Linked DNA regions of Homo sapiens. The protein of the gene in region 1 purifies or fractionates together with the protein of each later gene. This does not show direct contact. Each region holds a gene or a part of one and is shown on either strand. Other genes may lie near its edges.

Region 1 (3,500 bases):
TTTTGTCTCCTGCTCTTTAAATGGAGGAAATTGTTCATGTAGGAAAAGACCAGGAAGTGTGATTCTGCTTTCTGCTCTGTGTGGTTCAAGCTCTGTTTTGTTAATTACATGTTTATACCAAGGGGTGGAAAGGTTTTAATTCATTAACACAAGAGTGTGTTTTTCTTAAAGTCCTATATTAGAACTTCTGTGAATCCAGACTGCCTTGGCAATGAATATTTTGATTTTCATGGCTTTTGAAACATGAAAATACCTCTGGAAATAGTCTGGTGCCACTGGGGACTTCACTAAGAACTAAAATTAAATTTTAGTAGAAGGCAGAAAGAAAACTCATGCTTTCATAATGGTTTATATCTTGCTGTCATCAAATGCTTTTCTTTCTTCAGCATGTTTGCTGTGACTGCAAGAAGGATTTTTGCTCCGTTTGTTCAGTCTTACAAGAAAATCTCCGTAGATGTTCTACTTGTCACTTATTACAAGAGACAGCATTTCAGCGCCCTCAGTTAATGCGACTGAAGGTGAAGGACCTGCGGCAGTATCTCATTCTGAGAAATATACCCATAGATACTTGTCGTGAGAAAGAAGACTTGGTGGATCTAGTACTGTGCCATCATGGACTAGGCTCTGAGGACGACATGGACACAAGCAGTCTGAATTCTTCAAGGTCCCAGACTTCTAGCTTTTTTACACGTTCGTTTTTTTCAAACTATACAGCCCCCTCTGCTACTATGTCTTCGTTTCAGGGAGAGCTTATGGATGGAGACCAAACATCCAGATCTGGAGTGCCGGCACAGGTACGAGGGGGTAACTAATTACACCCAGGGCCCGGCACGCTTATTCTTGGCCGTATATGGTGGGGCCTTTAGTGCTTGATGACTTCTGATAAACTTCAAGTCATGTGCTGGAGTGAAGCTTCCACACCCAGCTGAACTCTGCACTTAAAGGCTGTCCTGATGTATAGTGTCTGCTGAGGTGCTAGGTGGCTCCAAAGTCTGCTGTCTGAAGGGTCCCAAAATAGCTCATCAGTCTCTTGGCCTTAGTTAATTTCTCTGTCTTACACAGTTAGACACTAACTGTTGAAGAAATGGCTGTGAAAAAGTAGCACATACACATTTGTAGTGTTATGTGTTAGTGCACGTGTTTCAGTGACCACAGAAAACAATCAGTAGTGTAAGTTAGCCTAATGCCCATTTGTCTTGCTACAGTGAAATTGTTCTAATTTAGTTAATGAAAGAGCCATCTGAATTAGTGAAAAAATGTAGTTATTTACTAATTGTAATTAATAATATTGTCCCAGTGAGGTCCTTGGACATCCTGATTGAATAACATGTAAAGGCTTGTAATTAATATTTACTTGTACGTGAGTGATTCTAAACTGCTGAAAGAAATGTTTTGAACAAATTTTTTCACGCTTAATTTTCTTCTCTGAAGAAGGGGGTTATTAAAAGTAGAGGAAAGCTGGATGCGGTGGTGTGAGCCTGCAGTCTGATACTTGGCAGGCTGAGGCAAGAGGATTGCTTTAGTTCAGGAGTACGAGGCTGCAGGTGTACCATGATTGCAACTGTGAATAGCCACTGTACCCCCAGCCTGGGCAACATAGCAAGACTTTTTTTTTTGTTTGGAGGCAGAGTCTCACTCTGTTGCCCAGGCTAGAGTGAAGTGGCGAGATCTTAGTTCACTGCAACCTCTGCCCCGCTGGGTTCAAGCAATTCTCCTGCCTCAGCCTTCCGAGTAGCTAGGATTACACCCCAGTTAATTTTTGTATTTTTAGTAAAGATGGGGTTTCACCATGTTGGTCAGGCTGGTCTCGAATACCTGACCTCAGGTTATCTACCTGCCTTGGCCTAAGTGCTAAGATTACAGGCATGAGCCAACCGCGCCTGGCCAAGAGTGTCTTTTAATTAGTAAATGAATAAATGCAGAGGGAAATTTGGTCTAATTGCCTTCTAGATATAGTCCTGTGTCCTCTAATAATGTTTTGGTCAGTGATAGACCACATACACGGCAGTGGTTCTGTAAGATTATAATACCATATTTTTATTGTACCTTTTTTGTGTTTAGATATGTTTAGATACACAAATACTTATTACTGTGTTATAGCTGCCTACAGTATTCAGTACACTAACGTGATGTACGGCTTCGTAGCCGGCCATGCCCTATAGCCTAGGTGTGTAGCAGGCTGTGCCATCTAGGTTTGTGGAAGTACACTGTGATGTTCGCACAATGACAAAATCGCCTAAGGACACATTACTCAGAACGTCTCCTAGTCGTCAAGCAACACATACTGTAGTCGTAAATTAGATAAGTCCAAGCCAGGAGTTTTATTATTCTCCCAAATGAGAATTGGCATATTTATGCTGCAAACATAAGGCACAGCTGACTTACATACCCCTTTTGGGTATACACCACCATTTGGGTGATGTGGATTGTTGGATGCTACAGTATGGTGCCTGGCAATCAGGGTGGAATATTTGAAATTGGGAACCGACCTAGCTTATTGGAGAGCTATTGTCAAATATAGTCAAAAGAAAATATGTGAAGGAAGGTACATAACCCAAACTGAAGAGATTTGTGTTTTCTAAAGTGTTCTGATTGAGAAATTTTAAAAACTAGAATTAGCCTCAGCCATCAGTGAAGTCTAGAAAGCCTTCGTTGGAATTAGATTGTCTAAGTACGCTGTGGTAGGACTGAGATCTTTCAAATCAGATGCCCCTGATGCTTGGGCTGACCCATCAGAGCTTTAGCTTTTTTCTGTCTGCATCTTACAGGCTCCAGTTAAACTAGCCATTTGCAGGTACTTTGATAATGACACAGTGCTGTCCCATATCCTTAATGGCTTTGGCATTCCATTATGGGACCTTCCTGAGAGAGTTAATACTCTGGTTAGATTTTATAACTTTACACACACACAGGAATTTGTGTTTTGAGCTAACTTTATGGAAGGTAGGTTCTTCATGCAATTTTGTAGGGCCCAACTTTTTGGAAGGGTCAGCAGCATTCTGAATCCAAAGATGTGCATTATGCTGGCTTTCTGGTCATCATGGGGAGCATCAATGACAAGGTTTTCTCTAGTGATAAATACAGATTGATTCCTGACCTAATCAGATACGTTGTATAAGTGTAGGTACAAAGTGAAATCACTTCAGCAAACACAGAAGATGATGATGACGACGATGATGAGGATGATGATGATGAAGAAGAAAACGCAGAGGATCGGGTGAGGCCACCTATAAAATTTGGTTTCCCTGACATGTCAGCCTGACAGGAAGGGACAGTGCCCTGTGGACATTCGCTAGATTAGTACAGGATGTTTCTTCTGGTTTGAATGTAGGACAGTATACTGAAACACTTCTAGGACTGCTGAGATGGCTGGGAGAATATTCAGGGCCAGTGATGAGTTTAGAGTGGGGAGGGTCTGGACTTATGGGACCAGGGCTAATGGATGCTCTGTGGTTTCAGAACCCCGGGCTCTCCAAGGAGAGAGTGAGAGCTTCACTGTC
Region 2 (4,005 bases), on another chromosome or scaffold:
GAGACAGCCTGAGATGTGGCCTCGTGGGAAGGGAAAGACCTTACCTTCCCTCAGCCCGACACCCATAAAGGGTCTGTGCTGACGAGGATTCATGAAAGAGGAAGGCCTCTTTGCAGTTGAGATAAGAGGAAGGCATCTGTCTCCTGCTTGTCCCTGGGAATGGAATGTCTTGGTGTAAAACCCGAGCGTACATTCTATTTACTGAGATAGGAGAAAGCCGCCTTATGGCTGGAGGTAAGACATGCTGGCGGCAATACTGCTCTTTACTGCACTGAGATGTTTGGGTAAAGTCAAACATAAATCTGGCCTACGTGCACATCGAGGCACAGCACCTTTCCTTAAACTTATTTATGACACAGAGTCCTTTGCTCACATGTTTTCCTGCTGACCCTCTCCCCACTCATTACCCTATAGTCCTGCCACATCCCCCTCATGGAGATGGTAGAGATAGTGATCAATAAATACTGAGAGAACTCAGAGACTGGTGCTGGTGTGGGTCCTCCATATGCTGAGTGCCAGTCCCCTGGGCCCACTTTTCTTCCTCTATACTTTGTCTCTGTGTCTTATTTCTTTTCTCAGTCTCTCATCTCCACCTTGCAAGAAATACCCACAGGTGTAGAGGGGCAGGCACCCTTCACTAAGTCCTCTGGTCCTCACTGTGTCCCTGCCAGGCTAAGGCTTCCTTAGCCGTGGTAAAGCAAATAAAGGCCTGACTTAAATCAGGCCTCCTGAATCTGACACTTGCCAGCTATGTGACTATGACGATGTCACATGATCTCTCTAAGGCTCGATTTCCGAATCAACACAATAACTATTCCCATCTCAGCAGGCAGCTCTAAGAACTAAACAGAAAATGTTCACTTAGGCAATCAGTGGAGTGCCTAGCACATGTAAGTGCCTGATGTGTTTGGGAACTTTATTAATCCCCTGACAGGCCCAGAGGTAAATGTCGTTATCACTTCCATTTCACAGTCAGCAAAGGCTCAGGGAGCTTTAGAAATCAGGCACAGCCTCACATTTAAAAAGCAAAAGCAGCATTTGAGCACCGCTAAAACACCTCACCAAGCTGCCAGAGAGCAGGCAGGTGGGAGTGAGGGGTGCTTTTAGCTACAGCCAGCACTGCCAGGATGGGTGTGGAACTGCAGCCCCGCAGAGACCTGAGAACAATGTCTCAGACAAAGGGAAGTGCAAGGGCAAAGGCTGAAAATGGGAAAGAGCTTGGCAAGCTCAGGATTCCCTGGATGAATGCAGTGAGAAAGGGGACAATGGAAGAGGAGAAAGAAGATGCGGTCAAAAGGGCAAACCAAGTACAGCCTTGCAGACCATGCTGGTAGGAGGGGGTGGATTTATTGGAAATGTGATGAGAGTCCCTATAAGAGAGGCCTATTCAATCATCAACCATTTATTAAGTACAATAAATGTACTTAAGCCTGGCTGTTCTGGGTCTTGGGAGAGGGAAGCAACAGGCACTCACATTCCAGGGTTGGAAAAAGATCCTAAACAGGCAACTAAATAAATGAGTAAGGCAATGTCAGATGGCCTTAAAGATTCAGATGACAAGAAAACAGAGCAAGGAGACCAAAGAGACTCTGGTCAGCTTTAAACGGTGCAACAGACGAGACCTCTTTAAGCAGCGGACACCAGAGGGAGTCAGAAATAAAGCAAAGGAGGGAGAGGTGGATGAGAAATTAACAACTACGACAGGAGCTGACAGTAATCTGGGCTATCATGAAAGTAATCAGAGTGACTGCTAGAGAGTAACCCTGGGCCTCATGTGTTATCTCCAAAGGGACACTACATCCTGCATACCATCGCCACTGAACATTTTAATGGACTCGTTTTTCACCTGTAACTAAATGTCTTAAACAGGAAAATATACTGTTAGTTGCAACCCAGCGTCCCTTGCCCTAAACTGAAAGACAAATTCCTCAGCCTGCCCTACCACCTTTTCTGCCCTGGCATAGCAGCAACCGCAGAAACGCTCCTCCCACCTCTTTCAGCCGCTGCCCTTCGTGTTGTAGAGACAGGAGGCCAAGGAGGCCAGAGGGTCAGACTCCTGCTGGGGTTGAGTCTCCAAACCTAGCACAGGCCCAGGGAGCAGCTCCGGAAACAACATCCTGAGCGACGTCCCCGGACCGTGCTGTGCACTGAGACGGACACACACACATCACCCAGGGAGCCGTTCAAGCTTCCTCAACCCCGGGGGGGGGAAGAGTAAATATTTCTACTTTGCGCGCGCAAAAATGAAGGACGAGGACAGTAACGGGACTTGTTCAAGGTCGCAGGCCCGAGAAAGGACATGGTTGGAAGAGCCACGAGGAGGACTGCGGTCGCTCCTCTCACCTGTGAGGGGTTCCGGGACCCTAAAAGCCCTATTTCATACCACAACGCCGCGCACCCCAGAAACGGGGACGCTCCCCACGCCACCGCGGGCCTGCATTCCGGACCCGGGACCGCGCGACCCCCTTCTAGGCCTCTAAGAAGCAACGGCAGGGACTGCACTGAGGACGACCCTGAAACGCCGTCCTTCCGCTCGTCGGGCCCGGGACACTGAGGCCGGGTGGCCGCGGGGAGCCGAGCCAGTCTGCTCACCTGCGCTGCGTCCTTCGTCTCCGCCATCCGACCGTTGGCAGGACGAGGCCGCGTGGGGCAGCTCCCACGGGCTCAAAACCCTACCCCGGGTCCTACAACGGTGCGGAGGTGAGCCCCAGTCGCCCTACCATCCTTCCCAGCACAGTTCTGAGAGCGCGGACCAACACGCCCCACCACAAACGTCCACGCCAGCGAGGCCGGAAGTCCCGCCCCTGTGTCGCGGTCGCCTGCCACGCCTTTTCCTGCGCCGGCCCACTGCCTTCTAGGTAATGTAGTCTTGTCCCGTAAGAGGCCAGGCTTGGCTCTTTTTCCTTTTTTATTATGCACACCATGTTTCTGTATATCTCAGATGATCTTAGCGGAGCAAGTGTACACACTGGATTGTAAATTTTTAAAACTTCCTATTATTCGGATGCCTCAACGTCCCTACAAGCAGGCTGTGAGCACTCGCCCAGGCACCCAGGTAAACGAGTTTGATAAAGGGGGCCCTGCCACGAGGTTCCCCGCTTGCCTCCTCTGAGTGACCCAGTGACATTCCCATGTACCAGTAAAATCTTACGCCTGGTTACTGCGTCCTCCTCCACCCTGACGCCAGGCACTGTCCCTGGGACTGGCGTGGATCTGGACCCCCGCTTCCCGCGTGGAGCCATTCCCGGGACATGCTCGTGGGGTTCCGTCTGTGGGACGTCTGCCTCCTCTGTGTGGACTGGTGTTGCCCAGGGCTCAGGAAGGTCTCCAGGGGCCGTGAGTCCCCGCCCGCTTCCGGAGTCCAGCTTCGTGACACCATCGTGAGAAAGAATGCAGGGATGAGTCAAAATGAAGCCAAAGGCAAGAAGCTTTTATTGGGAAGAAAAAGTACACATTTTTGAGAAGAGTGTACTTTTCCCAAGAGAAGAGGGAAATGCGGACGTACGAGGGAGAGCGGGTCATGCACAATGGAGTTTGGGTTTCTAATTTTATGGGCTCTTCTAATTAGGGGGTGGGATAATCATGAGGTTTTTCTAGGAAAAGGTGGGAATTTCTTAGAATTGGGGTGCCAACCATTTTTATACTAAATGTGGGCGTGCTTGGATTGGCCTGGCACTGGTGGGTGTGTGATTTAATGTGGCAATGAGTGTATAATTAGGTCTGGGGTAGGAAATGGGTCAAATCTAGCGTCATGGGACAGCCTAGCCCCAATCCTGTTTGTTAAGGTCTCATCAGCCCAGTCTTCTTGTTGGAGTAGCTAATTTTAACAGCTTGATGTTTTCCCCCTTCTCCTGTGACCACACAGCATTCCTATTTTGTGGGTGTTTCTTTAATTAGAGAGTGGAATAATTATTAGGTATTCTGGAAAAGGAGGGAAATTCAGGGACCCACCTGGTTACTGCCCCCTTTCTCTCTTATTTGGCTTTGCCCAGAAGAGTCATGGAC
Region 3 (3,500 bases), on another chromosome or scaffold:
TCCAGAGGGTCCCCTGCAAAAACACTCCTGGAGAATGTGACTGTGATCCAGGCCCTGATGCCATCAGGGAGAACGGTCCTGGTGAGAGAGACAGCAAGTGCTGTGGCCGCAACGCAGGCAGGTTTGCATGGCTGGATCTATGTGACTGAGGGAAGTCACAGTTCACCCAGAGGAGCTGGGGGCCCATCTGGCAGGAACAGAGGTGGCTCTGGCAACCCCATAATAGTAACACCAAAATCTATTGACCTCTTACCCCACACAGCTAAAGCTCAGAAACCACTGGTCATTGGCATTCTCCCAGCTGATATGAGGGGCGCGGAATTCTGCCCCATGTTTTTTGCCTCTCAACTATCCCACTGCTTCTCACGGAGGCCCCCAGCCTCCAAAGGGGGGCCTCTTTGATCTGTGACAGCCATGTTTTTCTCCAGATTTTGTGGTTCATTGCTTCTGGTTGTTTTCTTGGTAGAGACTCCGGAATCTGCCCCAGGTGTCTGGGAATGACGTGAAACAGCACAGCAAGGAGGCCTGAGGCGTGAATGTGATGGTGCTGGGTCTGCCTGGCAGCCTGTGGGGGCGGAGGGATGCCTAAGTGGGGGATGCCGTTAAGAATGGCCAGAAGAGACAGGGTGAGCAGAGAGGCTGAGAAGAGACAGCAGATCAGAGCAGGGGGTGTGGGGGAAAGGAAAGAGGGGGTCAGGCGGGGCGCTAAGGCAGCTCCGTTCACGTGTCAGCCTCAGCCCACAAATCTGATGTGAAGGCCTTGCCTAGGGTGTTCTGCACTGTATGCATGGCTTGGTTCTTGGAGAGCCTCGGTTCTTAGAGAGCCTCATTAATGCAAAACTCCCCGTAGGGCAGGACTCATTCCCCACAAGAATAAATATACAGTAGGAGGAGATGTTCCCTCCGCACAGAAAATCCACGACCACTGCAGCATATTGTCATTGCTTTCTGTCTTCTCAGCCCGATCTCTCAAATCCCAAAGAGGGGTCACCCCAAAATTGACGGCTCAGCCTCAGAGAGGTGGCTACTTGGTTGCCTATCACGCTGACGTTGCACACCAAAGTTATCGACTTTAATGCACATTTTTCAGCCCTGGTGCTGTTACCTCCTAATGAATGGGTGGATGACATGTTGGAGGGTTTTAAAATTATTATTTAAAAATGATTTTTAAATTATTTATTATTATATTTAAATTAATTATTAAATGATTTTTAAATTAAATATTTTTAAAGTATTATAGTGAGTTATAAAATAGCAATACAAGAGTCCTCAAAACCCAGGACAGGTGTTCTGATGCATGTAAACAGACCCCTCGCCAGGCACTAGTGAAGAACGGGGACCTTTCTATTTCTGCTCTCAGCTGACGTGGCGCCACCATGTGGTAACTGCGTTAAGCACCAGGTCACGCAGCCTGCGGAGGCAAAGCAAGGACCCGACTCCAAAGGGATATCTTAATCACTGCATGCTGGCTTTGAAATCTTGCTGTTTTCTGTGAGTTTTGTTTTAATGATGGAAATCTACATTATGCCAAATTTGGCTCATATTTTTTTTTTATTTTTTATTTTTTTAGAGACAGGTGACAGACTGGCTCTGTCACTCAGGCCGGAGTGCAATAGTGTAAACATGGCTCACTGTAGCCTCGACCTCCAGGGCTCAAGCGATCTTCCTGCCTAAACATCCCAAGTAGCTGGGACCATAGGCACACACCACCAGGCCTGGCTAATGTTTTAAATTTTATGATAGAGACTGGTCTCAAACTCCTCGTCTCAAGAGATCCTCCCACCTTGGCCTCCCAAACTGTTGGGATTACAGGCGTGAACCACCACAGATGCTTTTGTATGGTTCTCCTTTACATTCAAATTAGAATCCACATGAGACGCAACCAGACTGTGGGCTCTGTGCCAGGCTGGGGGCCTGGCTGCAGGGTAGGCCTGGCCCTCCCCTCAGAGCTGACCAGGGGATAAGCCCATCTCAATACAATGAGACAGTGCTATGGTAGGGGAGGGACAGAGGCTGCAGGAGCACAAAGGCCAGCTAACCCTGACTTTGGCCAAGAAAGGGGGTGTTTAGGGAAGTGACAATAAATTGTAACCAGAAGGATGGATGATTAAGAGTCAGCCAGGTGCCAGGCACGGTGGCTCATGCCTGTTATCCCAGCACTTTGGGAGGCGGAGGTGGGAGTATCACTTGAACCCAACAGTTCAAGACTAGCCTGGGCAATATAGTGAGACCCCCATCTCTAAAACAAAATAAGTAAAAATGAATTTTAAAAAAAGAGTTAGCCAGGGGAGCAGGTAGAAGAGCAAGCAAGAGCCTGGACATCCTGGGAAGGCTGGGCCGTGCTGGGGACTCGGAGCATGCCAGGCTGGGGAAGGTGAAGTGGCAGGGGCCAGGTCACCAAAGGCCTTGGAAGCCCTGCTACTGAGTCCTAAGAGTGACAGCAGATATTCACGTGACAAAGGCCCTCCCTGCTGTTGAGACTGAGACTGGATGGGGCATGGGAGGAGCACAAGACTGACTAACTGTCCAGAAAGTAGGTATGCCTGCTCAGCCTGCATTCCTAATTCCCCTGCCCTTTCTGTCTTTCATTTGATTCATAGGAGAAAGAGGGACCGGAGGCTCCGAAGGAAGAGCATTGCTGGACCACACACTGTGGATAAGACAGGAGGTGAGGCAGAGCAGGGTTTCTACAGCCCCGAGAGTGGCAGCCTTCCTCACTTCCTGTTACTGTTGTCCTGAGGGAACTCTGCTGGCGACAGCGGGGTGGGGGACTCTTATGTGACACTGGGTCCTCCGGGGTGGGAGCGGGGGGCAGGCTGGGTTTTCAGTTATTAAAATGAACCAATCACTGTACACACACCAATTAGTGCATTAAATATTATTAAAGTTGCCTGGGCACAGTGGCTCACGCCTGTAATCCCAGCACTTTGGGAGGCCGAAGTGAGCAGATTGCTTGAACCCAGGAGTTCAAGACCAGCCTGGGCAACATGGCAAAACCCTGTCTCTACAAAAAAAAAATAGAAAAATTAGCTGGGCATGGTAGTGTGCACCTGTAGCCCCAGCTACTCAGGAGGCTGAGGTGGGAGGATCACCTGAGCTTGGGAGTGGGTTCTGTTATTTTCCCCATTTGCTGAGCTGTCTAGAGATGAACTGGCCCAGGGCTGTGTGATAGATAGGTCAGTAGCCCATCCAGGGTTAATCAAGTGTTCTCAATCACTTGTGGTCAAGTTATGGGCATGGGTCATGACAGTGACTTAATACAGTTCATGTCAAATTATAAATTCCAGGAGACTGAAACTCTGTTTTTCCCCTATCCCCAGCACCTAACGCACAGCCTGGTATATACAGATGGTGCTCAATAAACACTTACTGGATGAATGATGTGACCAGAGACTGCTCTCCTAGGTAGCCTCCACCCAACTCCACCAACGTGGAATAGGGATGGGGCAGTTGGATGTGCACAGGAGAAATAGACCACAGGTGCCCATGTCACAGCTGGA

Evidence for each region.
Region 2: the proteins of RNF34 (region 1) and ZNF550 purify together in Homo sapiens (co-immunoprecipitation; one large-scale study listed by IntAct). This does not show direct contact.
Region 3: the proteins of RNF34 (region 1) and CASP9 purify together in Homo sapiens (affinity purification with western blotting, with the first as the bait; one study listed by BioGRID). This does not show direct contact.

The regions. Positions count from the first base shown.
Region 1 is NC_000012.12:121,417,118-121,420,617, forward strand, and holds part of RNF34 (E3 ubiquitin-protein ligase RNF34), read left to right. Parts: intron 1-386; coding exon 387-794; intron 795-3,124; coding exon 3,125-3,217; intron 3,218-3,459; coding exon 3,460-3,500. UniProt on the Homo sapiens protein: E3 ubiquitin-protein ligase that regulates several biological processes through the ubiquitin-mediated proteasomal degradation of various target proteins.
Region 2 is NC_000019.10:57,557,064-57,561,068, forward strand, and holds the start of ZNF550 (zinc finger protein 550), read right to left. Parts: upstream 2,801-4,005; 5' UTR 2,620-2,800; coding exon 2,593-2,619; intron 1-2,592. UniProt on the Homo sapiens protein: May be involved in transcriptional regulation.
Region 3 is NC_000001.11:15,500,216-15,503,715, forward strand, and holds part of CASP9 (caspase-9 isoform alpha precursor), read right to left. Parts: intron 1-3,500. UniProt on the Homo sapiens protein: Involved in the activation cascade of caspases responsible for apoptosis execution. Binding of caspase-9 to Apaf-1 leads to activation of the protease which then cleaves and activates effector caspases caspase-3 (CASP3) or caspase-7 (CASP7).